Linked DNA regions of Homo sapiens. The protein of the gene in region 1 purifies or fractionates together with the protein of each later gene. This does not show direct contact. Each region holds a gene or a part of one and is shown in the gene's direction. Other genes may lie near its edges.

What was found.
Region 2: the proteins of EXOSC9 (region 1) and DIS3L purify together in Homo sapiens (affinity purification with mass spectrometry; 3 studies listed by BioGRID and IntAct, with this or other methods). This does not show direct contact.
Region 3: the proteins of EXOSC9 (region 1) and EXOSC10 purify together in Homo sapiens (co-immunoprecipitation; 7 studies listed by BioGRID and IntAct, with this or other methods). This does not show direct contact.
Region 4: the proteins of EXOSC9 (region 1) and C1D purify together in Homo sapiens (affinity purification with mass spectrometry; 3 studies listed by BioGRID and IntAct, with this or other methods). This does not show direct contact.

Annotation. Positions count from the first base shown.
Region 1 is NC_000004.12:121,795,332-121,804,322, forward strand, and holds the start of EXOSC9 (exosome complex component RRP45), read left to right. Parts: upstream 1-5,991; 5' UTR 5,992-6,093; coding exon 6,094-6,159; intron 6,160-6,495; coding exon 6,496-6,590; intron 6,591-7,342; coding exon 7,343-7,462; intron 7,463-7,583; coding exon 7,584-7,686; intron 7,687-8,991. UniProt on the Homo sapiens protein: Non-catalytic component of the RNA exosome complex which has 3'->5' exoribonuclease activity and participates in a multitude of cellular RNA processing and degradation events.
Region 2 is NC_000015.10:66,331,568-66,334,398, forward strand, and holds the end of DIS3L (DIS3-like exonuclease 1), read left to right. Parts: exon of another isoform or gene 1-301; intron 302-307; coding exon 308-453; intron 454-1,168; coding exon 1,169-1,343; intron 1,344-1,436; coding exon 1,437-1,745; 3' UTR 1,746-2,331; downstream 2,332-2,831. UniProt on the Homo sapiens protein: Catalytic component of the RNA exosome complex which has 3'->5' exoribonuclease activity and participates in a multitude of cellular RNA processing and degradation events.
Region 3 is NC_000001.11:11,095,880-11,105,738, reverse strand, and holds the start of EXOSC10 (exosome complex component 10), read left to right. Parts: upstream 1-5,869; 5' UTR 5,870-5,907; coding exon 5,908-6,018; exon of another isoform or gene 6,019-6,064; intron 6,065-7,582; coding exon 7,583-7,719; intron 7,720-9,857; coding exon 9,858-9,859. UniProt on the Homo sapiens protein: Catalytic component of the RNA exosome complex which has 3'->5' exoribonuclease activity and participates in a multitude of cellular RNA processing and degradation events.
Region 4 is NC_000002.12:68,039,396-68,046,789, reverse strand, and holds the end of C1D (nuclear nucleic acid-binding protein C1D), read left to right. Parts: intron 1-379; coding exon 380-446; intron 447-746; coding exon 747-802; intron 803-3,736; coding exon 3,737-3,901; 3' UTR 3,902-5,660; downstream 5,661-7,394. UniProt on the Homo sapiens protein: Plays a role in the recruitment of the RNA exosome complex to pre-rRNA to mediate the 3'-5' end processing of the 5.8S rRNA; this function may include MPHOSPH6.

The DNA of each region.
Region 1 (8,991 bases):
AATTAGCTGGGCTTGGTGACACATGCCTGTAGTCCCAGCTACCTGGGAGGCTGAGGCAGGAGAATTGCTTGAGCCAGGAGGTGGAGGTTGCAGTGAGCCGAGATCACACCACTGCACTCCAGCCTGGGTGACAGAGTGAGACTCCCATCTTAAAACAAAAAACAAAAAACAAAAAACAAAACATTACTATTTGAGACTGTCACTACAACAGTTACTACTGTTACTACTTGAGACTGTCATTACAAGACTTACTACTGTCACTACTTGAGACTGTCATTACGAGACTGAACGAAAACGGACGCATGCAGAAATGAAAACTTAAAACAAAAGAAACTGTTTTAAAGGAAGGGACCAGGGGAAAAAGAAGAGGGCTCCTTGCTTCTAGTGAGCAAAGGCAGCAGCCCCTGAGCTTCTGCAGCCCTTCGTATTTATCGGGTAGAAAGAGCAGGGAGAAGGAGGTAACAATTGGTCAGCTGCTTGATTGATCACAGGTTCACGTTATTGCTAACAGGCTTCACATGTGCCTAACCACAAGAAACACCTGTGCCTGGGTTGTGACTCCCCTCAGCATTCCTTCTGGGCGGCAGATGCAGTTTGTCAGTTTGCCAACATCCTGCTTTCATGAGAAACAGTTTGCTGTTTACTCATATAGCCTTCAGTTGTATGCTGAGTTGATCATGACCCTCATTCTTTTGGCCTTCAACATATGCCCTGCCAAAAGGATTCAAATATTGTTAAAACTCTTTGAGAGAAAAACAAAACACAGCTTGCTAGCCTGTTTAGTTCCTCTCTCATAACCTCTATCACCCTCAATCCATCCAAATAAACTCTCATTCTAAGTAAACGCAGTGTGATTACCAAGCAAATGCAGCCTTCTGAGTTCTTCAGTCCCTTTCGGCCAGATTACTGATCCTAAACTCTTCCTATTTATAAATTCCAAAAGGTCTACTGAACAGAAATCATCTTTATCCAAACTCTTGCCACTTTTAAATGTGATCCACTGCCCAGCAGCATCAGCATCACCAGAGAGCCAGTTAAAAATGCAAATTTCCAGGTCTCTCTCTCCTGCCTCCTTCTTGGGCTCACCCAGCTAATCCAGGATAACCTCCCCATTTGAAAACCCATAACTTAATCACTGCTGCAAAATAACTTTTGCCATATAAGGCAACATATTCACAGTTTCCAGAGATTGGAATGTGGAAATCTTTAAAAGAGGCCATTGTTTTGCTTACTATACAACACTATAAGTTATTTACATGACAATTAGTTTAATTCACAATAGCAAATTCCACTTATTTTATTTGTAGAAAACTAAGTGACAACTTTTCTAGATCATATTTATTGCTTAGACATTAAACAATATAATTTCCTACAGATTTCTATCGATGAGCATGAATCTTCTTTTAATAGATGAGAACAAATCCAAGGGCATCAGTGATGTGTCCAAGATAGAGCCATATGCATAATCTAAGTGAAATGAAAATGTCCCTTCCCTGAATTATCTTCTAATTTGTTGTATTTTTGATAAGCTGAAAATGGATAATTTTTTATTCCTCTAAATACATTGTAAAGCCTTAATAATAATAATATAGCTTCCTGGACATAACAAATGATATAATCAGAGTCAAAGGAAAAGCTCTTTTCAATATCCAAGGAAGCTAGAGATGGACTGGATAATCTAATGGACTTAAAAATCTATAATTCCCATAAAACATATGCGAGGGAAATTTGCACTACATTTTTTTTTTTTGAGACGAAGTCTCACTCTGTAGCCGAGGCTGGAGTGCAGTGGCGCGATCTCGGCTCACTGCAAGCTCCGCCTCCCGGGTTCACGCCATTCTCCTGCCTCAGCATCCTGAGTAGCTGGGACTACAGGCACCTGCCACTACGCCCGGCTAATTTTTTTCGTATTTTTAGTAGAGATGGGATTTCACCATGTTAGCCAGGATGGTCTCAATCTCCTGACCTTGTGATCCACTCGCCTCAGCCTCCCAAAGTGCTAGGATTACAGGCGTGAGCCACCGCGCCAGGCCTGCACTATATTTGACATATTCAGTTGTCAATACATAAAATCTTTTCAACATATTAACTGATAAGTGGTTTCCCGTTTGAATCTTGAAAAAAAACAAAACAAATGTCTTTGTTAAAATGTAGTTGAAAGTCAAAATTCCCTTAAATAAAAAAATTAGCTAAGTATGGCCAAACAATAAAAAGAAAACATAACACCTTTTTACTTTTTACTTTTTCTGATAATAAAAGCTATTCACATGCCTTACAGAAGATTTGGAAAGTTCATAAAGAAAAAATAGCAAAATGAAATAAAAACCTTTTCCCAAAATCCTATCACTCAGAGATAACCATTTTTAATATTTCATATTATACCCTTCCAGGATAACTTTTGGTACACCAAATTCTATACAGACAAATTGTACAGCAGATATATGGTAAATAAAATGGTAAGCTTTCATTTGTTCACTCATCCACCCATTTTTTTCTTTTTTTTGAGATGGAGTCTCACTCTGTCATCCAGGCTGGAGTGCAGTGGCACAATCTCAGCTCACTGCAACCTCTGCCTCCCAGGTTCAAGTGATTCTCCAGCCTCAGCCTCCCGAGTAGCTGGGATTACAGGTGTGGGCCACCATGCCTGGCTAATTTTTGTATTTTTAGTAGAGACAGGGTTTCACCATGTTGGTCAGGCTGGTCTCGAACTCCTGAACTCAAGTGATCTGCCCACCTTGACCTCCCAAAGTACTGAGATTACAGGCATGAGCCACTGTGCCCAGCCTTTTTTTATTTTTGAGATGGATTCTTGCTCTATTGTTCAGGCTGGAGTGCAGTGGTACAATCTCAGTTCACTGCAACCTCCATCTTTTGGGTTCAAGCGATTCTCCAGCCTCAGCCTCCTGAGTAGCTGCGATTACAGGTGTGTGCCACCATGCCCAGCTAATTTTTGTATTTTTAGTGGAGACGGGGGTTTCACCATGTTGGCCAGGCTGGTCTCAAACTCCTGACCTCAAGTGATCTGGCTGCTTTGGCCTCCTAAAGTGCTGGGATTACAGGCGTGAGCCACCGCACCTGGCCTCCACCCATTAATTCTTTCACCAGATGTGCTAAGTAGGCCATTCATCCTTTGATTCACAAGGTACACTACCAGTCTCAGTGGGTGCTACAAAGGTGAAGAAGACATAGACTTTATACTCTAGTAGAAATGTACTAGAATTCCTTCGGACACACTTTTACAAAGACCAACTCAAATGTATTGGCTCACTAGAATCGCATGGGGTCAGGAAAGGGCATTTCTCCAAGAAATAGAAGGCTGCTGGTCAGACAAAGCAACTGATGTTCAATAAAGAGAATGCACACTCAAATAGTTTGTTGAGAACTAGGTTATTTTTAGACAGATCATCCAGATTAATATGCTGATTCCAACTGATTCTTCTTTTAAGAACAGAAGGTGAGGCCAGGTGCGGTGGCTCACTCCTGTAATCCCAGCACTTTGGGAGGCCAAGGTGGGCGAATCACCTGAAATCAGGAGTTTGAAACCAGCCGGACCAACATGGTGAAACCCCATCTCTACTAAAAATACAAAAATTAGCCAGGCGTTGTGGTGCATGCCTGTAGTCCCAGCTACTTGGGAGGCTGAGGCAGGAGAATTACTTTAACCTGGGAGGTGGAGGTTGCAGTGAGCCAAGATCATGCCACTGCACTCCAGCCTGGGTGACAGAGTGAGACTCTCTCAAAAAAGAAAAAAAAAATAATAGAATGTATCACATTACCTGACACATTATCTGAACCTCTTCTTAACCTTCCAAACTTATTTTTCCCTGAAATCATGAAACAAATTTTCCTTTGGCATTCAAAAATTTCTTATAAACACAAGGTTGTAAAGTACATATATTTTAGGATGGTATGTAGATGTAAGTGGAGATGGGTCATACACCTTTGGATTAACTCGAAAATAAAAAGACAAAAGCAAGAGTGTTTAAATTAGAATATAAAAGTGAAAGTAGAAAAGAACAGTGGAAATTCAACAAAAGTGGAAGGAAAGCAAAGTAATCAAGCAGCAGTTTCAGAAAAGCAATCTGTCATGCTGAGTTTGGGCAGTTTCATGGGAAGCCTTTGCCAACCCAACAAGAAAGGAGGAAACTAACATTTGAATAGCTATCATGTCCAAAATGTTTCATCAGATGCTTTCATTCAGACCACTTAACACAGAATAATTGTTATTTCCAATCTGAAGATACAGAACCCCCAAATCAGAAAGAATATTTAGCTCACTCCAAGTTCATTTGAGCTGAACTTTATCTGAAGCCAAAGTCCATTCTCTTTCCATTACCAAGCTGCCTTGCAGTAAATAACAGGCTATTTCAACAAAGGTCTATTTCATCGCTGAAGGGAAAAATTACCAAATGGCCACTGAAAGAACTCAAGGATTTAAATGAAGAACTTATCAACCAGGAGTTCTGGTATGAAACTGTACTATAAAAATGAATTCATGTTGCTAAAGAACTTAAGTGGTTAGTACCCTGTAATCCCCTTGCCGATTTTGAAAATTAATCATTTCTGTCCACTTTCCTCCTTCTTCACAATTTCTCTCTCCAGACCATGTGGAGCTCATCTCATCTCAGTTTTTGCATATGTTACTCTTTCTGCTTGAAACACTTTTCCTCTCCAGATGGCATCAAGGGTGCTCCTGCTCAACACCAAAGATTTACTTTACTTTAATGTCACCGCTACAAAGTCACCTGTTCCTGCAACTACCCCTATTAAGATAGCATTCCTATTCTCAGAGAGCACTTAACACTGTATGAAATTGTTCTATTTGTTTAGGGTTTTTTGCCTTTTCCAAAAAGAATATAAATTCCTTGAAAGGATCTTGTCTACCCTGTTTCTCCAGCACTTAAATTATTCTTGGACAGAGTAGGCCCTCTTCAAGTATTTATTGAGTACATGGATTGCAAGTGGTACAAAGTGAGACTAAAATGTATCACTGGTAGAAAAAACTTGTGAGAAGCTACCAAAGAAGCCAGAGAAAGACTGCGTAGGAGTTACAGTGCCTACCACCTCTAAAGCAAAAGGAAACAAAATAATAATATGCAAACACTTAAATAGTGCTTATTCCATGCCAGGCACTGTTCTAAACATTTTATGTATATATTAACTCATTTTTATTCCTCAGAATAAATAGGTTTCTCACTTCCCCTGCTTTGTTTTTGTTTTTGTTTTTTTTTTGCCGGTGAGTAATGTGAAGCACACAGGTTAACTTGCCCAGGGTTATAGTAGTTAATGATAGCCTTAAAATTTGAACCCTGGCAGTGAACACTTTTTAAAACTACTATTTGATACTGCCTCTCCAAAAAAGCTGAGTGGTTGGCAGCATGGCCCCGCTAAGGCTTCTCTGTGACCGTAAAAAAAAGTCTATCGACTTAAAATAACTGGAGAGGGGATAAGAAATAAACGGTGCATTTACTTTCAGTCCACAGTAGTAGTAACATCGTTAGTTACTACGTGCGAACATTCTCCATTCTCATCAACTTCTCAGATCCCACAAGATTTCACCTTTGGCCACAAAAACATCCCATTTCACCAATTTATCTTTCTCCCCCAACCCTTATGCCGCCTCATTCCAGTGTTTGTTCATTTAATCTGCTCCAAATCCTGCATCTGCGGCTTTCCAGGGACCAATGTCAACTCATCTGTGAAATTGCAGAAGTACATGTCTAGTCTCCACCCCGTGAGAGGACTGAGCAAAGGGTGAAGTGTGCGAGCGGTCTACTGATAATAATTTCTATCACTCTCATGGTTATTTTAAGTATCCTTTTCTCCTCTGCACTTTATGAGAAAAGAAACGGAACTTCACGTTCAGAAACGGCCTCCCAAAGCCGCAATGGCTTCTCGCAGCTCGCTGGCCTTCCCCAATCACGCTTTGAGTCTGCGCAGTAGCTGCAGCCCAAGCCATTTCCCATTTTTCCGCCGCCGCGCCTTGATGACGTAATTTTCCTGCGCCTCGGGGCGAGCAGCGGCGCGCAAGGAAAGATCGGGTTCCGTTTTTCCCGCGGATTCTGGTGCCTGTGGGGCCGGTGACCCAACACCATGAAGGAAACGCCACTCTCAAACTGCGAACGCCGCTTCCTACTCCGTGCCATCGAAGAGAAGAAGGTATGGTTTGGTGCCCGCAGAATTGCGCGCTGCGTGGGCGCTCGGGTCTCAAGGTGTGGACTGATACCTGGCCCGCCTGGGCCCGGGGAGCTACTAGGGGAACGACCGGCACGTTCACCCCATCCCTCAGGCTTTATTTATTTTTTTTCGACAGGTTCTTTTCAAGGCTCCAGTCACCGCAGCAGTTGTCCATGCTGTAGTTTCCACTTTCCTGTATGGGCGGGCTGGTTAGGATTCCACTTTCCCCCAAGTGCTTAGCCCAGGGCCAGACAAAAAGTAGTTGCTTAAGAAATACTTGTTGAAGGAATAAATTAATGAATGAATTTGTGCTTACAGCGGCTGGATGGCAGACAAACCTATGATTATAGGAACATCAGGATCTCATTTGGAACAGATTACGGATGCTGCATTGTGGAACTTGGAAAAACAAGGTAACAGGATTTAAATGAGATACACATTCGGAAGGGAGAAGTTTGAAAAAAGACCTTATTGACTTGGTTGTTTATAAAGCAGCTAAGAAGTCTGGACAGTATTCTTTGTTTAGCTGACAAAAATAAGTATTTTTTTATGCGAGATTTTTTGCTTTTGTGGTCACACTTGAACTTTTTAATCATAAACGTATTTTCTGTCACGTATCACATAGTTCTTTTCTGACTTCTATAAATCGTATAGACAACTAGTAGTGATCATATGGAATTTGTTTCTCACACTAATATAGAGATCTTGAGCATCTTGTCATTAAGTGTACATCCTGCTTTCTTTTTCCTGAGTGACATGAAAATTAGGTTTTCAGATATTCATTTGAAAGTTGTGAGGCTATTTGGTCACATAATGGTGGTGAACTATGCCATGTGAAAACCTTTAAGAAATCTCAGGTTTTCATGCCATCTTGTATCAATAAATACTTGCTTTAGAGGTAAAGGTCACTGATTTTTAAAACAATCTGTGGAATAGTAAACATTGTAATAAGAAGAGAGGTGTTTTTTCTGTCGTGTTTTTAGTTGTACCAATTTATGTTTTATTTCTGTGTATATTATACTTTACATATAATTTTTATCTCCTATGATTTATTTGGCTGAGTATGATATTACTCACATTAAGATTGAAACTTGTTATCTGTTTCAGTTTTTTGTTTTGGAAGGAGAGTCTATTTGGTTAATACTTTGTAACTTTATCTTTGCAGAGTTCTTGGACAGGTTTCCTGTGAACTTGTGTCTCCAAAACTCAATCGGGCAACAGAAGGTATTCTTTTTTTTAACCTTGAACTCTCTCAGATGGCCGCTCCAGCTTTCGAACCTGGCAGGTATTTAAATCTTTTTCTTAAGTTGCTTTAGTCATAGGAGAACCTAACAGCAGTGAGCTTTTGTTTTAATACCTGGTGTTATATTTCATGACATTAGCCCATTCCTATTTTCTCCTTATAGGCAGTCAGATCTCTTGGTGAAGTTGAATCGACTCATGGAAAGATGTCTAAGAAATTCGAAGTGTATAGACACTGAGTCTCTCTGTGTTGTTGCTGGTGAAAAGGTGGGGAATATGCCCATAATTCTTAATCTTAGGATGAATACTGTTGATCATGGATCCCGGTATCTATCCTTTTATTCTCAGAACTTTAGTTAACTCAGTATTGTACTGGTTTGCTTCACTTCAGATGTTCTTGAGTGATACCCTTAGAACTTTGTGCTACCTCTCTCTCTCTGAAGGGACAAAAAGGGTGTCCCTTCAGAGGACACCCTTTTTCTTAAAGGTTTCTAAAAGGTTTTCACCCTTTATCTTAAAAGGGTGAAAATAGCAACTTAGATTTTTGTGTAAAAATATTTTATTCAAAGAACTTGTGGCTTTTTCATATAATCTCTCATTTTCTACATGAGTTCATAGAAGCAGGTAGTTTTCCTTTTTCATGCAGAACTCAAGAACAGATGAAATCCTTCATTTGGATAGGTTTATCGATTTACACAGGGCCACACCATGTCAGTGGCAGGGATAACTTTGAAAATCTTAGTCCCAATAAATTGTGCTGCATTAGGATATTAGAATTTTATTTTATTTTATTTTGTTTTATTTTTTTGAGATAGAGTCTCACTCTGTTGCCCAGGCTGGAGTGCAGTGGTGCAATCTCAGCTCACTGCAACCTCTGCCTCCCCTGTTCAAGCGATTCTCCCACTCAGCTTTCCGAGCAGCTGGAACTACCGGCGCCTGCCACCACGCCCGGCTAATTTTTGTATTTTTAGTAGAGATGGGGTTTCACCAGCAGGCTAGTCTTGAACTCCAGACCTCAAGTGATTCACCTGCCTTGGCCTCCCAAAGTGCTGGGATTACAGGCGTGAGCTACTGTGCCTGGCCAGAATTTGATTCTTGATTAGGGTATTTTGACAAGCATTTTCATCCCAGAGAAGTCATTTAGCTTCCCATATTCCATACCTAAGCATAATACTTCCTATTTGCATTACTTGTAAGGTTATTAAAAATATCACAAAACCTAAAAGTTTAATTTTTTTTAATTTTTGAAAACTTTCATTATTTTCTCTGAGGGACAGGGTGACACTCTCGTCCAGGCCGGAGTACAGTGGTGTCATTATAGCTCACTGTAATCTTAAACTCCTGGGCTCAAGAGATCCTCTCTCCTTAGCCTCCCGAATAGCTAGGACTATAGGCGCGTGCCACTCCACCCAGCTAACTAAAAAACTTTTTTTTTTTTTTTTTTGTAGAGATAGGGTCTTGCTGTGTTGCTCAGGCTGGTCTCGAACTCCTAGGCTAAAGCAGTTCTGCCACCTTGACCTCCCAAAGTGCTGGGATTACAGGTGTAAGCCACTGTGCCTGGCCTAGAGTTTG
Region 2 (2,831 bases), on another chromosome or scaffold:
GAAATGCAAGTAAGACATGTGTAATACTTTTCCTGTACCCAAGGTGAACATGACCCAAATTTGCTGATCTCTAATTTCATGAACTATAAATGGGTTTCATTTTATAAAATAATTCATTTTCTAAGACATTTTTGAGGAGATAATACTAGATGGTTAAGTTCCCACAAAAAGTAATTTAATTTCATAGTAGAGAACAATTTTTATATTAATAGTTTTACAGAATCTCACATTTGAATGAATATGAATTTCGTTTCTTTGGGGAATGCCAGGGGAGTGTTAAAATGCTTTGGAGTTGTGCTTCTTACAGGCAGCACAGCATTCTCAGAAGCAGTCTACTGAGCTCTTCCAGTGCATGTACTTCAAAGACAAAGACCCTGCCACCGAGGAGCGTTGCATATCTGACGGAGTTATTTATTCAATTAGAACAAATGGTGTGCTTCTATTTATACCAAGGTATGTTACATCTAATGCAATGGTGCATAAGAAATCATAGTTAAAAGTGTAGAACACAAACTGTACATTAGATATAATTTATTAAAATATTTAAGCAACTAGTTATCATATGTACATAATGTAATGTATAATTCAGTATATAAATGTGAAGATTGGAGGCCAGGGGTGGCTCACGCCTATAATCCCAGCACTTTGGGAGGCCAAGGTGGGCGGATCACCTGAGGTCAGGAGTTCGAGACCAGCCTGGCCAACATGGTGAAACCCCGTCTCTACTAAAAGTACAAAAATTAGCCGGGCATGGTGACGCATGCCTGAAATCCCAGCTACCTGGGAGGCTGAGGCAGGAGAATCACTTGAACCCGGGAAGCAGAGGTTGCAGTGAGCCAAGATCGTGCCACTGCACTCCAGCCTGGGCGACAGAGCAAGACTCTGTCTCAAAAAAAAAAAAAAAAAGTGAAGACTGGAGTGTGTGTGTGTGTGTGTGTGTGTGTGTGTATATATATACACACACACTTCTATATCCATTTTAGGGTCTTTCTTATCCAGCAAAATACTTTGTTTCCATCTGCTAAGGTGAAATAAATACGTGGAGGTAAACCACAGGAAAAGTGATTTGTTTTTAATCTAGGAGAAAAACTAGTATTCTAGATAAGCATACAAGATCTGTGTACTAAGAATACATTGTCTCTGGATTTATATTCTGGTCATAATATAGGTTTGGGATTAAAGGTGCTGCTTATCTAAAAAATAAAGATGGTTTAGTCATCTCATGTGGCCCAGATAGCTGTTCTGAATGGAAACCAGGATCCCTTCAACGATTTCAAAACAAAATTACCTCTACTACAACAGATGGGGAATCTGTTACGTTCCATTTGTTTGACCATGTAACCGTAAGTCTGTGTTTCTATTAAGTATTATTAATATTTTAAATGTAAGGAATAAATAATGTGATTTAGTAATATGTATTTTCTTCTCTATGCTAGGTAAGAATATCCATACAGGCCTCACGTTGCCATTCTGATACAATCAGACTTGAAATAATTAGTAACAAACCATACAAGATACCAAATACAGAACTTATTCATCAGAGTTCCCCCTTGCTGAAGAGTGAGTTAGTGAAAGAAGTAACTAAATCTGTGGAAGAAGCTCAGCTTGCCCAAGAAGTCAAAGTAAACATCATTCAGGAGGAATATCAAGAATATCGCCAAACAAAGGGAAGGAGCCTATACACACTTCTAGAGGAGATACGGGACCTAGCTCTCCTGGATGTTTCAAACAATTATGGAATATGAGAGGCTCTTACTTCACTAAGAGCTGTCATATGTGAATGTTTTACAGTCTTTTCAAACTTAACATTTAATGTGTGTCACTCAGTGCTCTAGTCGATCAGGACTGGGTAGCTATTTCGCATATATGTAAAATGTTCTCAGCCGGGCACGGTGGCTCACGCCTGTAACCCCAGCACTTTGGGAGGCTGAGGCGGGCGGATCACGAGGTCAGGAGATTGAGACCATCCTGGCTAACACGGTGAAACCCAGTCTCTACTAAAAATACAAAAATTAGCCCGGCGTGGTGGCATGCGCCTGTAGTCCCAGCTACTTGGGAGGCTGAAGCAGGAGAATTGCCTGAACCCAGGAAGAGGAGGTTGCAGTGAGCCGAGATCGCACCACTGCATTCCAGCCTGGGCAACAGAGCGAGACTCCATCTCAAAAAAAAAAAAAAAAAAAAAAAAAGTTCTCTCATTCATTAAAGTTGCATTAAATAAAGTATAATTAGGTCACTATGGAAACAGAGTTTTCAGTAATGAGTGGACAGTAAGTGGTGGCTCTGCAGATGGCCCCTTTCTAATAAGTTTAATAAACCCGAAATTACTGGTTATCTCGTCTCCAATCAGTTCTTTCAAATGTTTTATTTTTCCAGTAATTACGTTTGGGTCATAGGCCCCTCTGACATTTGTCAGGTAATTTTCAGTCACTTTCAGATAATAAGACTTAGTCCTGAGTCCACTTCTCCACTTAAAAATTCCTATTTCATATTTGACTCAACCCTTACCTGCTGTCTCCAGTACTAGCTGGGATTAGGACACAGGGCGGGTGGTAGGATGCACAGGTAAAGTTCTGTCACAGGCCTTCCTTCCCACTCTCCCATTTTGATGAGGTGCATTGGCCTTCCCCTTGTTGGAAACTTGTTACTTTGCCAGCAAACACCCCACTAGAAAAATTAACTCTAGGCCGAGCGCAGTGGCTCACGCCTATAATCCCAGCACTTTGGGAGTCCGAGGCGGGTGGATCACAAGGTCAGGAGTTCAAGACCAGCCTGGCCAAGATGATTAAACCCCATCTCTACTAAAAATACAAAAATTGGCCAGGGACAGTAGC
Region 3 (9,859 bases), on another chromosome or scaffold:
TCCCGCCTCAGCCTCCCAATTAGCTGGGACTGCAGATGAGCACCCCCACCGCCAACTAATATTTGTATATTGGGGGAAATTCACCCCCGATATTTCACATAGGTTCTTTTCTATATTCCCTAAGTGTCAGCCGGTCTGAGAAAAGGGACAGAGTACAAAAGAGAAATTTTAAAGCTGGGTGTCCAGAGGAGACATCACATGTTGGCAGGTTCCATGATGCCCCCCTGAGCCATAAAACCAGCAAGTTTTTATTAGTGATTTTCAAAAGGGGAGGGAGTGTACGAATAGGGTGTGGGTCACAGAGATCACGTGCTTCACAAGGTAATAGAATATCACAAGGCAGTGGAGGCAGGGCAAGATCACAGGACCGGGGCAAAATTAATATTGCTAACGAAGTTTTGGGCACGCTTTGTCATTGATAACATCTTATCAGGAGACAGGGTTTGAGAGCAGACAACCAGTCTGACCAAAATTTATTAGGCGGGAATTTCCTCGTCCTAATAAGCCTGGGAGTGCTATGGGAGACTGGGGCTTATTTCATCCCTACAGCTTTCACCATAAAAGACGGCCGCCCCCGAAGCAGCCATTTCAGAGGCCTACCCTCAGGGATGCATTCTCTTTCTCAGGGATGTTCCTTGCTGAGAAAAATAATTTAGCGATATTTCTCCCATTTGCTTTTGAAAGAAGAGAAATATGGCTCTGTTGTGCCCAGCTCACCGGCGGTCAGAGTTTAAGGTTATCTCTCTCGTTCCCTGAACATTGCTGTTATTCTGTTCTTTTTTCAAGGTGCCCAGATTTCATATTGTTCAAACACACATGCTCTACAAACAATTTGTGCAGTTAATGCAATCATCACAGGGTCCTGAGGCAACATACATCCTCATCAGCTTATGAAGATGACGGGATTAAGAGATTAAAGTAAAGACAGGCATAGGAAATCACAAGGGTATTGATTGGGGAAGTGACAAGTGTCCATGAAATCTTCATAATTTATGTTCAGAGATTGCAGTAAAGACAGGCGTAAGAAATTATAAAAGTATTAATTTGGGGAACTAATAAATGTCCATGAAATCTTCACAATTTATGTTATTCTGTCATGGCTTCAGCCAGTCCCTCCATTCAGGGTTCCTGACTTCCCGCAACATTTTTTGTAGACAATGGGGTTTTGCCATCTTTCCCAGGCTGGTCTTGAACTCCTGGACTCAAGCAATCTGCCCCCCTCAGCCTCCCAGAGAAGCCACTGTGCCCAGCCCTGAGTGGTGTTTTTAAAAGGCAACTGGTGGCCAGGTGCAGTGGCTCACACCTGTAATCCCAGCACTTTGGGAGGCTGAGGCAGGTGGATCACCTGAGGTCAGGAGTTGGAGAGCAGCCTGGCCAACGTGGCCAAACCCCGTCTCTGCTAAAAATACAAAAGTTAGCCAGGTGTGGTGGCATACACCTGTAATCCCAGCTACTGGGGAGGCTGAGGCAGGAGAATTGCCTGAACCTGGGAGGCGGAGGTTGCAGTGAGACAAGATTGCACCACTATGCTCCAGCCTGGGCAACAGCAAGACTCCGTTTCAAAAAAAAAAAGGCCGGGCATGGTGGCAGGCGCCTGTAATCCCAGCTACTCAGGAGGCTAAGGCAGGAGAATCACTTGAACCGGGCAGCAAAGGTTGCAGTGAGCCGAGATCGCACCACTGCACTCCAGCCTGGGTGACAGAGCAAGACTGTTTCCAAAAAAAAAGGTGAATTTAAATCTCAATGGTGATACTAATAACAGTTCTAACACTCACAGCTAGAAAGTCACATACCTACTTGGATTTTCTGTTACAGTCCTAAACCATGTATCACCTATTTGCTCCAGAAAATATGGTCACCATAACTTTCCTGGCTCCAGATGAAATAACTCTCAGTGACTACAGTGATGTTACTATTCATGAACGATAAAGGTGTGAGAATGATAAAGGCAGGAAAATGGTGGCCATCAGTGATAAAGATATATTCTTTAGGATATAAGAGTCTGGATTAAGGTCTTTGGTGAATCCGATAGGTTTTAAGTTATATCTAAGCAAAGCCTTCTGGGTGTGTTGAGACAAATTATCAAAGGCAGAGGAGGAGCTAGTGGAGGCCTTTAAATACAGTTTAGTCCAGCCAGGCACGGCAGCTCATGCCCGTAACCCCAACACTTTGAGAAGCTAAGGTGAGAGGATTGCTTGAATCTAGGAGTTTGAGACCAGCCTGGGAAACATAGTGAGACCCTGCCTCTACAAAAAATAAAAAAATTCGTTGGGCATGGTGGCATGGGCCCAGTCTACCCTGGATGCTGAGGCCAGAGGATTGTTTGAGCCCAGGAGTTCAAGCTTACAGTAAGCTATGATTGTGCCACTGCACTCCAGCCTGGATGACAGAGACCCTATCTCTAAAAATAAATACATAAACAAGGATGAAGATCTTTATGATGATCCACTTAATGAATAGTAAATATATTTTCCTTAAAATTTTCGTAATTTATTGTAAGAATACAATACATACACACAATATGTGTCAGTTGACCGTTTGTTATCGGTAAGGCCTTTGGTCAACAGGAGGCTATTAGTTAAGTTTTGGGGGAGTTAAAAGCTATATGTGGATTTTCGACTGCTCAAAGGGATGGGAGCCCCTAATCACCAGATGTTGTTAACAGGTTAACTATTTTTTTCTTTTTTTTTTTTTTTTTTTTTTTTTTTTGGAGACAAGGTCTGGCACTATCACCCGGGCTGGGGGGCAGTGGTGCAATCTCAGCTTACTGCAACCTCCACCTCCCGGGCACGAGTTATCCTCCCACCTCAGCCTCCTGAGTAGCTGGGACTACAGGTGCATGCCATCACACTCGGCTAATTTTTGTATTTTCTGTAGAGACTGATTCTTGCCATGTTGTCCAGGCTGATCTCAAACTGGTGAGCTCAGGCCATCCTCCCACCTCAGCCTCCCAAAGTGCTAAGATTACATGTGTGAGCCACTGCGCCCAGCCAGTTGTATTTTTTAAGAATCAAGGCTGAGGCCGGGCATGGTGGCTTATGCCTATAATCCCAGCACTTTGGGAGGCCGAGGCGGGTGGATCACGAGGTCAGGAGTTTGAGACTAGCCTTGCCCACATGGTGAAACCCCATCTCTTACTTAAAAATGCAAAATTAGCTGGGCGTGGTGGTGCACGCCTGTAATCCCAGCTACTCAGGAGGCTGAGGCAGGAGAATCACTTGAACCCGGGAGGCAGAGGTTGCAGTGAGCCAAGATCATGCCATTGCACTCCAGCCTGGGCAATAGAGTGAGACTTCATCTCAAAAAAAAAAAAAAAAAAGAATCAAGGCTGTAGTGTCAACTTACTAAGTTTCAAATATCAACTGCATCTCATAGTACCTTTGTGACCTTGGATAAGTTACGTAGATTCTCTCTGCTTGTCTCCTCTGAAAGTGTGGGTAAGCCCTACCTTGTGAGGCTGTCTGAAAGACAAGATAATCCATGGAGGAGCATTTAGCACAGCCTGACTGACATGTGGTATTAGGTTGAACCACGTGAAATAGGTCCTCAAAAATACTAAATGAACTAGGCGTTTGTCCTGCCAGAGTACCTGTGTACCTGAAGCACACACACGGAAAAAGTGAAAAGCAAGTATTCTCTTAACTGGATATGCTGAACATTTATTGAAGACTTAATGGGTGGAATGAATTGTATTAAGGGCATCCCATCTCTAATTTCAGGAGAGTGAATCTATCTCTTGAGCTGCCTGATAATTCGGTGCCTCCCTCACAAGAGCTCTTCCAGGAGTTCACTTCACAAATGTGTACTGAGTTCCCACTCTGTGTTAACCAGAATGGTTCCAGCGATGTCTGCAGGAAACAACGTCTGCTTGGAGGAGTTCAGAGGGTACTGGAGGGAGGAAGCACAGTTGGAGCTAGACGCTTTCTTCAGGAGCTTACCTGTAAAGGGCAAGAGAGAGATGATGGCAGTTGGAAGGAGATGTGGGAGCCAGTGTTTTTTCCTTTTCTCTTTTAGTTGGGAAAGATGTCAGTGTACTTGTAGGCTGTTAGGAATGAACCAATAGAGAGGGAAAAGATAGATCCAGGGGGCAGGGGAGGTGTAATTAATTACAGGAGTCAAGACCAAATGGGTGAGGGGAACACAGAACCAGCCAGAGCTTGGGAGGAGGTGACTTTAAATATGAGGCTGGGCCGGGCACAGTGGTTCCTGCCTGTAATCCCAGTGAGGTGGGAGGACGGCTTCAGCCCAGGAGTTCGAGACCAGGTTGGTAAGATGCAGTCTAAAAAAAATAAGCCAGGCGCTGGTGGCGCACACCTGTAATCCCAGCACTTCGGGAGGCCAAAGCAGGTGGATCACTTGAGGTCAGGAGTTCAAGACCAGCCTGGCCAACATGGTGAAACCCCATCTCTACTAAAAATACAAAAAAAAAAAAAAAATTAGCCGGGCATTGTGGCACACGCCTGTAATCCCAGCTACTTGAACCTAGGAAGCGGAGGTTGCAGTGAGCTGAGATTGCACCACTGCACTCCAGCCTGGGCAGCAGAGTGAGACTCTGTCTCAAAAAAAAAAAATAAACAGGGCAGGCACGGTGGCTCCGCCTGTAATCCCAGCACTCTGGGAGGTCGAGGCGGGAGGATCACAAGGTGAGGAGTTCGAGACCAGCCTGGCCAATATGGTGAAACCCCGTTTCTACTAAAAATACGAAAAAAATTAGCCGAGCGTGGTGGTGCACGCCTGTAATCCCAGCTACTCGGGAGGCTGAGGCAAGAGAATTCGTTGAACCCGGGAGGCGGGAGGTTGCAGTGAGCCAAGATTGCGTCACTGCACTCCAGCCTGGGCAACAGAGTGAGACTCCATCTCAAAAAAAATAAAAATAAAAATAGGCTGCACGCTGATGACTCGTATCTGTAATCCCAGCACTTTGGGAGAGCAAGAGTGAAACTTTGTCCCAAAAACATGGTTTTTTTTGTTTGTTTGTGACAAGGTCTCACTCTGTTGCCCAGGCTGGAATGCAGTGGTTCGATCTCGGCTCACTGTAACCTCCACCTCCCGGGCTCAAGCCTCAGCCTCCCGAGTAGCTGGGATTACAGGCATGTGCCACCACGCCCGACTAATTTTTGTGTTTTTAGTATAGACAGAGTTTCACCATGTTGGCCAGGCTGGTCTCCAACTCCCGACCTCAGGTGATCCACCCGCCTCGGCCTCCTAAAGTGCTGGGATTACAGGTGTGAGTCACGGCGCCCAGCCTCAAAAACATAACCTTAAAAAGAAATTTTTGAGACAGGGTTTCATCCTGTCACCCCGGCTGGAGTGCAGTGGAGCCTCCACCTCCTCGGCTCAAGCAACCATCCCACCTCAGCCTCCCGAGCAGCTGGGACTACAGATGCGCACCACCACTCCCGGTAATCCCGGTTTGTTTGTTTTTTAAATTTTTAAATAAACACGAGGATAAGCGGGGATCGTGGCCCTCGCCTGGGGTCCCTGCTACTTCGCAGGCTAAGGTGGGAGGATCTCTTGAGCCCAAGAGTTCGAAACCAGATTGGGCAAACCTCGTGTCAAAAATATATGTGATAGTCAGGTCCTCCAGGCCGCACCCTAGATCACAGGGTTGTTGGGATGATACAATATGAGGTAAAAGAACGTGAAATTCACACCAGAGCGCTCGAAAGTGCCACCCTAATCGCAGGCTTCCCAACCTAATCGCAGGCTTCCCAACCTAATCGCAGGTGCCCCACCCTAAACGCAGGCTTCCCAACCTAATCGCAGGCGCCCCACCCCAATCGCAGGCTCCCCACACTATAATCAGACGCCCCGCCCGCCGCTTCGACCTGGCGCATGCGTGGTGCGCACGCGTCCCGTCTCCTCGGCCGACAAGCTCTCGCGAGACGAGCCGTGCAGGCTGAAAAAATGGCGCCACCCAGTACCCGGGAGCCCAGGGTCCTGTCGGCGACCAGCGCAACCAAATCCGACGGAGAGATGGTGCTGCCAGGCTTCCCGGACGCCGACAGCTTTGTGAAGGTGAGTTCGCGGGGCCTCGGGGGTACCAGGAGTCGCCCGCGGCCGCCGGAAGCCGACTGGGCCCTCTGGGCAGCCAATGCCCGCCCGCCGTAGTGGAGCCCGAGCGAGGGTCGCGGGGCCCCTGTCCGCGCTGGGCGCAGACTCTCCTGCACCCTCCGGGGATGGGGCCTCGGAAACGGACACTGAGGGGCGTCCCGCTTGCGAGCCTAAGTCCATGGAGGCCCAAATGTGGAAAGCCGTCTCGCATCCTGGGAAAGGCTTCCTTGCCACCCAGACGTCCCTAGCCCTTGCGACGTCGCGCTCGCCACGCCCTAGCCACCCGACCAGCTCTCCGCAGGGGCTCGGCTTCTTCGCGCTCCCCACACTTGCCTGGAGTTGTCTCCTCCCGCGGCCAGTATGGCCCTTCTCTTCCTCTGTTTCTGAAGTCCAGTCCTACATAATTTTTAACCCTGAGTTAAATGTCACCTGTTAAAGCCCCATTGCACGTTTATTAGTAACTCCTGGAAGGTATACAGGGCGTTCACTTAAGATCTTTGTATAACTTAGCTTAAATATGAGCAAACGTACAACTAGGCTTAAGGTGTGCATAGCTCTTACAAAGCAATGAAACTAAAATAATTTGTAAATTAACCCTATAAATTTACAGAAATTCCACTAACGTTGTATCTTATCTAATTTGCTGTTAGCTAATGCTATTGATTCATTAACATGGCTCTCAATAGTTCCTGGACCACTAACTGTGGTCCTGGTTGTGTGGCGGTCATGCTCATAAGCTACCATGTTCCCCTCCGTGACTTAATTTCCCACCTCCTTTCTCTGCTTTTTTCTTGGGAAATGTTTATTCACAAAACTCACAATGACGTTTTAGGCCTTCACATGATCAGCCATCATTTATGTCACTTCACGGCTTTTTTTCGTTACCTCACAACAGTTAAAATAGAGAACCACTTGACACTAACTGAACAATAAACACAAATCCAGTTTTAGATAGTAGCTGTTATAAATTTGTCGTCCAAGGATCTAGGATAAGCTTGTATTGTTTTTAGATGCTCATCCAGATGAAAACACAAAAACAAATTCCTGTAGAAAGCTCTTGGATCTGAACTTGAGTCGTAATAATAACGCTTATGTGCCAAGAACTGTCCTAAGTGCTTTTATTAGCTTATTCATTCTGTCCTCACAAAAACTCTGTGGTGCAGGCCCTTTTTATTTTTCCTGTTTCTCAGAGGAGAACACTAAAGTCCAAATAAAGCAATCACTTGTCCAAGATCTCAGTTAATACGTAGCAGAGTCAAGATTCAACCCCAGGTATTTGTGAATATTAATCAGATTATATACGTATGTATTCTGTCTCTCAACTCTCCCAAGAATATAAGCTCCAAACTTGGTTTCCTGTTCAGTATTGTATTCTCAGGGCCTAGATTAGATTGGGGTTTGGCACTAAATGAGTGCTTTTTTTGATGGATGAAGAGTAGATACCTTGTATACGATAGATCAAAAAAATGACATACCAAATGAATGGGGATCCCTGTGTAAACATGCCATCTTTTCTTGTTTTTGACAGTTTGCTCTTGGGTCCGTGGTGGCAGTCACCAAGGCATCTGGGGGCCTACCACAGTTTGGCGATGAGTATGATTTTTACCGAAGTTTTCCTGGCTTCCAAGCATTTTGCGAAACACAGGGAGACAGGTTGCTTCAGTGGTAAGTACTGTACTTTGTTTTCTTGTGTTAGTGAAAAGAAATGAAAACAAAGAAGTAGATAAATTTTTCCTGAAATTTATTTTTCCTTAAACATTTTCTGTGGTATGAAGAGCTATAAAATGTGAAAATTGAAGCAATGGATTTTGATTAGGGAAATATTACTTGGTATATTTTTAGTTTAGCCTTTAAAAAATGTATTGACTTTTGTACTGAAAAAATATATTGACTTTTGTACAAATCTTTTTTAATTAAATGGGACGTGAACACTTAGAGCCAAGATTCTTTTTTTTTTTTGAGACGGAGTCTCGCTCTATTGCCCAGGCTGGAGTGCGGTGGCATGATCTCGGCTCACTGCAAGCTCCGCCTCCCAGGTTCACGCTATTCTCCTGCCTCAGCCTCCTGAGTAGCTGGGACTACAGGTGCCCGTCAACACGCCCAGCTAATTTTTTGTATTTTTAGTAGAGACAGGGTTTCAACATGTTAGCCAGGATGGTCTCGATCTCCTGACCTCGTGATCCACCTGCCTCGGCCTCCCAAAGTGCTGGGATTACAGGCGTGAGCCACCGCGCCTTGCCAGATCCAAGATTCTTTCCCACAACTTGTAGAGTAGCAGGTATTTTTATTTTTATTTTTATTTTTTTTGAGATGGAGTCTCGCTCCATCACCCAGGCTGGAGTGCATTGGCTCAATCTCGGCTCACTGCAACCTGCGCCTCCCAGGTTCAAGCGATTCTCCTGCCTCAGCCTCCCGAGTAGCTGGGATTATAGGTGTACACCACCACGACCAGCTTTTTTTTTTTTGTTGGGGGGGAGTACGGAGTCTTGCTCTGTCGCCCAGGCTGAAGTGCAGTGGCGTGATCTCGGCTCGCAGCAACCTCCACCTCCCAAGATCAAGCGATTCTTGTGCCTCAGCCTCCCCAGTAGCTGGGATAACAGGCATGTACGACCATTCCCGGCTAATTTTTGTATTTTTAGTAGAGGAGGTTTCACCATGTTGGCCAGGCTGGTCTCGAACTCCTGACCTTGTGATCCACCCACCTCAGCCTCCCATAGTGTTGGGATTACAGGTATAAGCCACTGCGCCTAGCCAGTTTTTTGTATTTTTAGTAGAGATGGGGTTTCACCATGTTGGCCAGGCTGGTCTCGAAGTCGTGACCACTCCTGAAGTGCTAGGATTACAGGTGTGAGCCACTGCGCCCAGCTAGGGTGCAAGTTTTATTGGTTTCATCAAAAAGTATCAGGGGCCAGACATGGCGGCTCATGCCTGTAATCCTAGTGCTTTGGGAGGCAAAGGCAGAAGGATCGCTTGAGCCCAGGAGTTCAAGACCAGCCTGGGCAACGTAGGGAGACTCCATCCCTACAAAAAATTTTTAAAGTAGCTGGGAGTGGTGGTGCACCACTCCCAAGTCACAGCTACTTGGGAGGCTGAGGTGGGAGTATCACTTGAGCCCAGGAGTTCAAGGCTACAGGGAGCTGTGATTGTACTGCTGCATTCCAGCCTGGGTAACAGAGCAAGACCCTGTCTCTTTAAAAAAAAAAAAAAAAAAAAGAAAGAAAGAAAGAAAGAAAAAGGCTGGGCTCATGGCTCACACCTGTAATCCCAGAACTTTGGGAGGCCGAGGCAGGTGGATCACTTCAGGTCAAGAGTTCGAGACCAGCCTGGCCAACGTGGTGAAACGTCATCTTTACTAAAAATACAAAAATTAGCCAGACCTGGTGGCGTGTGCCCATAATCCCAGCTACTCAGGAGGCTGAGGCATGAGAATCGCTTGAATCCGGGAGTCGGAGGCAGGCAGATCACTTCGGGTCAGGAGTTCGAGAGCAGCCTGGCCAACATGGCAAAACCTCATCTTTACTAAAAATACAAAAATTAACCAGACCTGTTGGCATGTGCCTATAATCCCAGCTACTCAGGAGGCTGAGACACGAGAATCGCTTGAACCCGGGAGGTTGAGGTTGCAGAGAGCCAAGATCATGCCACTGAACTCCAGCCTGGGCAACAGAGCAAGACTGTCTCAAAAAAAAAAAAAAAGATGTGTTGGGAACAGTCTGAGCCACATCATTTGAACATTCTCTCTCACAGAATGTAAACAAGTGAAATAAAAATCTACAAGCTAACCTTGGTTTTCCTTTCCTTAGCA
Region 4 (7,394 bases), on another chromosome or scaffold:
GCCTAAGCCTGCTTCTTATACATAAATGCATCATGTACAATGTTTATATTGATAAATTACTTTTGACTTACAAAGCCCAGATCGTAACTCCCGAAATTAAAATAATTCAAAAGAATTTTTCTTGGGTTATGCACTTTCCTTGTCTAACTAAAGATGATACCCTAAGGTGAAAATGTGTGGACAAAAGTCACTCATTAAGAAAACTTCTTTTTACAAATTATTTTCAGATCATTTGGTTATTGGATTATATGAAGTGAAAAAAACTTCTTTGATACATTGTACTTGGTAAAAGTCAAATGTTATCAGATGGTGTTCAAAGTTTGTGTATTTTTTTTCTGTCTCACTTTCTCTCTTTCCCTCTCTCTTTCTTTTTTAACAGTTGGATCCACTTGAACAAGCAAAAGTGGATTTGGTTTCTGCATACACATTAAATTCAATGTTTTGGGGTATGTGTGTTACTTTGGAATTAATTAGAAAGCAAATTACTTATTGTGTGAAAGATGATTTATTTTTAAAATGCTAACAATTTATTTACAATTATACTTTATAACACTTTTAATAGATACTTATTTTTAAATCTAGATGCCAGTGAGCCACACATAGATTTAGTATTACATGGAAATTGAATAATTTAAAGTTTAATTGTTTGTAGGACTTTCCTTTTTTGTGAATAACTAGTTTCTTTAATTGGAATGTTTTAAATTAATACATTCACCATTTTATTCCATGAAATTTTTCTCTTGTAGTTTATTTGGCAACCCAAGGAGTTAATCCTAAGGAACATCCAGTAAAACAGGAATTGGTAAGATTTTAATTTCTTTTTATTTTATGTGTTTGTTGTTGTATTCCTGAGGTTTGTCACACTACCTTTGTCACACAAATTAGGGAGAACAGAATTCGAGTTGAAATTATGAAAGTGAGCCAGACCTTATTATCTTTGGGTTTTTTTTTCTCTTACCTTTTTCAGATAATTGGTATTCCATATATTATATAAATCTCGGAATGGGAAAATGTTACGATTCTAGTAATTATTTATAACTTACATATTATTTTTCTTATAAATTCTTGAAATCCTGTTTATCTCTAGAACTACTTTTTTTTTTAAACTTCTGTACAGTTCTTAAAAGTATATTCTAGTTGATTTACTAGCAAAGACGGGAAAGTTTCTCCCTCCCACCTTTTCAATTCCTCCATTAATTCATTTTCTCAGCAGTAAAGAATCCAGTTCAGCAACAAAGCTAAAAGCTTTTTTGGCACCAGCTGTATGTGTACTGTCCAGTAATTCTGCATTAGACATATTTACAACCTGTAATAAATCTTCTAGGTTTGTCTTTGTATTCCATTTAGATGTATAAGTACAGTATATAAGGTCTGGTATCTTGGAGTTTTTGCTGACTTCAAAAATTAAATCAAATCATTCAATTTGAAGAGAAAAATTAGAAATCAAACTTATGGTTACCTTCTTGACTTGGTTTTATGAATAAGAATATTAATAAATTGATTCTTTGTGTTTATAAAATATAAGGCAAATATAGATATGAAATACACTTGACATTGTATTCTTGTTCTCAAGTTTTAGGGTAGTTGATATGTATGTTATTTACAGCTTAGTAAAGCACTTGGTCCTTTACTTTTTAAAAATGAGTAAGCCAGATCTGTTGTCTTCAGTTTTTCAACATGTAGTCTAAGACATTTCCTTATTTTGAAGTTCTTGGGGGGGAAAATAAATTTATTTTTAAATAAAACAATTGTGAAAAATATTTAAAGCAAAAGTATAAAGCAATATGATATGCAGGTCTTGGTTTGACCAGTGATACGGCTTTAAACCTTTAAAATGATGGCTTGTATCATCTGTTTTCAACTTCCTAATATAGACTTTGCATACAATTTCTCTTTTTTCCATTAACATGAAGTTATTTGGAATACTTGATACTGTCTTTGTGAAAGGACAAGGTCATTTGTTTTCTTTCTACCTCAGAATCTACTTTTGAAGTAGTACATTAATATTCTAGATAAGGGTTGGTGAATAAAAAGCATGCATAAACCTCTTCCCCTTTTCTTTTTCTTTTTTTTTCTTTTTTTGAGATGGAGTCTTGCTCTGTCGCCCAGGCTGGAGTGCAGTGTCGTGATCTTGGCTCACTGCAAGCTCCACCTCCCGGGTTCACACCATTCTCCTGCCTCAGCCTCTCGAGTAGCTGGAATTACAGGCGCCTGCCACCACGCCCAGCTAATTTTTTGTATTTTCAGTAGAGACGGGGTTTCACCATGTTAGCCAGGATGGTCTCGATCTCCTGACCTCGTGATCTGCCCGCCTCGGCCTCCCGAAGTGCTGGGATTACAGAGCCTGTTCCCCTTTTCTGACCTTGCGTAGATGTTACTAATTGATCACAGACTTAGTGTATGATAGGAAACTTATTTGCCGTATGTATCACAAATGGGAAAAGTCAGTTTACTCATTCAACAGATATTTGAGTGCTTACTGGGAGCTAGGCATTATTTCCAAGTGAGAGATGATTCCTCTGTGAGTAATGCTGATCCCTGCCCTTGTGGCAGACACCAGACTGTATCTAATGGAGGGAGACAAATAATAAAGTAAACAAATAAGAAATATATATGAATATGTAGTATGTTGGAAAGTTATGGGAACAAAGAAAAAGAGTAGGGTAAGGGGGACTGGAGTGCTTGGATAGGACTGCAGTTTTAAATGCTGAAGTCAGGGCCTCAATGACAAGGTTAACATTTGAGTAGACTGGAAGGAAGAGAGGAAGTGGCCGTATGGGTAATTGAGGAAATATCCTTCTAGGCAGAGGAATAAGCAGGGCAAAGACCCCAAGGCAGGTTGGTGTGTGTGTGCTGTAGCTAGTATCCACCATCATAAGCACTGTGCTTTTTTATTCAGACAGAAATGGGACGTCACTAGAGAGTGTGGAGCAGAGTTGCCAGTCTTTCACAATGAAAACATTTTAAGATTCTGCATTAACTATGTTGATTATTTTAATAAAGCTTGTTTTTAAGCAGTGATCAGTCTTTTACTCTGCTGTTTTATGGCTGTCATCAACTTTATTTCTTCATTTGAAGCGTAAGATAGCCATTTATGCTGATTAATTGTCTCAGAAGATTCACAGTGGTACAGCAACATATTATGTTTCTCACCCTGTAAAGTCTGATTAGAACTGTATATTTTATTAGAAAATTTCATGTACTTACCAAAATTATAAAATTGAATAATTTGTATTTTCATTCTCCCTAATTGTTACACTAGATGGTAATGTGAAAAGATAGTTAAGTACTACCTCATGTATTTCCTGTTTAGAAAAATTTCAGGAGAATTTAGTTTGTATTTTGCAAGTATATGAAAGCTCCGGTTTTTTACTTTAGATACAAAACAGTTAATATGTAGATTTATGTTAATGGTGTTTTTCAAAAATGTATAACCACCTAGAAACTTTCAATTCGATGTTTATTTCTGGAGTAATGTCTTAGTGTGATTCTAACTCTTTGGAAACAGAAGACTTCTGAAATGACTTTTTAACATCTGTCTTTCCCCACCCTCCGACTATGAACTCCAGGCAAGCAGGGAGCGTATTTATCCTATTCATTTGCATTTCCTAGCACCATGCACTTTAATAGGCAATAAATACATATATGTTGAATTTAACCAAGGTGTACAGTATAATAAAATTCAGTGGTGGCGAATAGCTTAGTAAATCTATTGCCTTTGTTTTTTATCTTTAAGGAAAGAATCAGAGTATATATGAACAGAGTCAAGGAAATAACAGACAAGAAAAAGGCTGGCAAGCTGGACAGAGGTGCAGCTTCAAGATTTGTAAAAAATGCCCTCTGGGAACCAAAATCGAAAAATGCATCAAAAGTTGCCAATAAAGGAAAAAGTAAAAGTTAACTTTTTGGTTTTGATGTACACATATTCAAAAAGTACATCTTCCCCCCCCCCCCCCCCCCCGCAAAATAATTCTGTGGCAGGGCAAGGTTTAAATGTGTTTCTTATTAATATGTAAATTCACAGTAAATATGTAAAGCTAAATACTTTCCTCTCCAAAGATCATTATCTTTATTGATTAGCACTGAGGATTTTAACATTGTGATATATTATATATTTATAATTTACCATCTCTTGATGAGACTCTTATTTCTTTATATAGGTCAGTCTTGCAAGTACCATTTTATAAGCAGCTGTGAAATTTAAGTGAAATGTTCTTTGTAAACATTTGTACTATTTTAAATGAATAATGACCTTATGAAGTATGCTATCTGTAGGCTGAAATTATAGGTACATCTGTTTTCACTATATGATATTAAGAAAGCGTGAAATGACTTAAATGTTCATTTTTTTCTGTATAGATACTTTATCATGTTTTCATGATTTTAGGAATTACTGCTTTGTTGATATTCAAAGTGTGAAACTAAAACTTTATGGTTGTACTTTAATTCTTGGCATGTTGCCTCTATGTCCCATTTAAAATAAAATACATTCTCATTAACTTTAGATGGGAAATAAGGTTGTATGTTGATGGATGAATTTTGGCATGATGACTGTACTCTCAATAAAGGCTGAAAATGTTGTATAACTGACCTGTGTATTTTTATCTTTTGAGTAAATTTGCCTTCCAAATTAGGAAGATAGGTTTTAGAAGTCATCACAAATAGAGAAATTCTTGAGTTTTTGTTCCTGATGCATGGTGTCCACAGTTCTTTTCATCTCATTTTTTTTCAGATTTTTTTTATTTCATGTTTTTGAGGCTGTATCAAGTACATACAAGTGTTTTGGAACAACTTCTTAAGTTACCTAATGCCACTTAAGCAGATGAGAAGTCCAAAGGAGATTACACTGTGTTTGTATTGTGGTTTATTTTTCTGGAATATTAGTTACAGAGAGTACTACATAGTAAACCTTTTTTTAAATGTCTAAGCCCATGAATTTTAATTATATGCCCTTAATGCTTTCAGTGTTTGAATCCATATCATTATGTGTAGGAATGCCAAGTATAGTAAAGTACTTTAATTTTTGAAAAAGGAGTTGTTAAAATTTTCTGTGTGATTAATTCTCCATAAGTAACCTTGAATAAATGGATTTCTTGATTTATGATAGCAGATATTGGAAATGGTCTTAAAATGTAATGGATTTTGTAAAGCATGTTGAACTCTTTCTATGACACATGAAGAGGAAGTCACTGATAGACGCAGAAGGTCTTTTCTGTCTCTGATGTCAGTTTTTGAAGTGGAAGAACATTAGTGAACATTTATAGTTATTTTACTCCTTTTTTTGCCTTTGTCTCCAAATTTCTAGCTATTTTTAAAAATAACCTCTTCATGAGAGAAATGTGTTACTGTTAAGATCAAGTGTAGTGTACCTGTCTTTGTGTTATTTATTGCAAAGAAATTTATTTGGATTTCTGTATATTTTCTAATTTCATAAAAGAAAAACAGCTTAAATGAAAAATGTTATACAATTGCAGAAAATCATTATTGGTTTTAGCTAAGTTATTGGTTTATGAAAGTGCACCTCTACGTTCTGTTAAATTGTGTAACTTTTAAGTGAGTAATTCTTTCATTATTAGGTAGAAATAAAAGTTTGAGTATATTCCATTTTATTATGTATAATTTTAAATACTTAGCACGTAATAAGGAGCTGAATGGCTGTAGTGCATTGGGTTGCTTATTTGCTTGTTGTTTGTTTATTCTTTTGACAAATATACTTAATGACATTTATATTGCCAGATACAGTGCTAGGTGCAACGTTCCAAAGACGATAACTACGGCCTTTATCCTATCTTTATAAGGTGTTAAGAAAAAAATAGTCTTTTTATTCAATTCAGTTTCTCAGAGTTATGGGAAAATTTATGACAAATTGTGCTCATTAACCTTATTCAGAACCATAAAGGGTGATGTGTGTGGTTGATCTATTTGACTATGGTGCAGTTCTTGTTAAAATAGTTTGTTCCACATGATAGTCTGCTCTAAGTTTAGATGTTAATTACATCTTTTATTAATCTCTTTGGGAATTAACAAGTTGGAGAAGTTGCATCTATAGATATTTTTAAGATTAGAATTATAGTCTATTAATCTTGTACTAAATAATGAGATCTTGCATTTTAATATTATTTTAAGTACAAATTTTTTCTTGTTCATAGTTGTAAGGTGGGAAATCCTTTTAGTAAAACAGAATATGTTGAGTGAAAAATTGAAGCTTGAATTATGTTACATTCCTGGAATTAGGAAGTTATGTCAGGTTGATTAGTTTTAAGATACCCTGTAGATTAAAAAATCCTTCTACTTAGCAATTAGAAATGGATTGGCATTATTTCTAAATAAGGTATTTAAAATTGACCAGAAGTGTAGGAAAGACTTCAAAAATGGACAGCGTATTGAATGTAAATACTTTTTTCTTAAGTAGGTCACTGGAGAAAAAGATACTTTAGGAATCACTCAGTTTATCATACAGTTAAATTATAATTTTATTCAATAAGTTACCAGAAATTCTGGCTTTGCAAAGTGACATTAACTAAGAAAGATGTGAACAGTGACTCAGCCTCATGTAATAGCTAAATTTGGTATCTAAAGGGAAGAAAAAGCACTGATGTCTCATTTTCTCCCTTCATAGCATAGTTAGAAAACCTGCTCAGATAAATTCAGTGGCTCTTTTCCTGAATGATCTTGGTAGCAACGTATTTTATATCAATGTGACGTGAACATAATTTACAAATATAAACATCTATCTTTCCCTATATTCTGATCTAAAACTCTCCAGTTTTGGAAATACAAGCCATATTTTGTTCATATATTAGCATTTTATAGTTGTCATTAACAACTATGTTGGCAGAAAGTATACAGGATTTTATAATGGAATTCTGTAGATTTGTTTCATTTGAATAATTTGCTATTATATTACCTGTTAGCGGGCTTTCAAGAAAATGATTTGAATGTTTTTTGGTTTGCATATTCATTTTCCTATCAAAGTGGGTGTACAGCCATAGACTACTCTTTAGAATAGCCACCCTCTGACTTGATGTGCCTTTTTAAAGTGCTTATTTATGGCATAACTTTTTATTATTCCCTCAAGAAGTCTGAGATTATGGCATAATTTTTAACACAGCCAGAAAGATTAGTAAAGTGTTCAGAAAAGAGAGAGCTATAGTGATAGCTATTGGCAATTGAGGTTTAATTTTTAACTTTATATCTCCCAACTCCCTGCCCAGCTAGAAACCTAAAGCCACCAGCTCTGTGTTAGTCATCTGTTCTTAAAAGGTTGAAACGAGATGCTGGTTTTTACTCCCTCTCCCCACAATTAGCCTTGAAGTTTAGCAAATCTATCATAGCAGAATAACTGTATGCAAGATGTCAGTTTTGTAAAGTGATATATTTCAGACAGTATACAA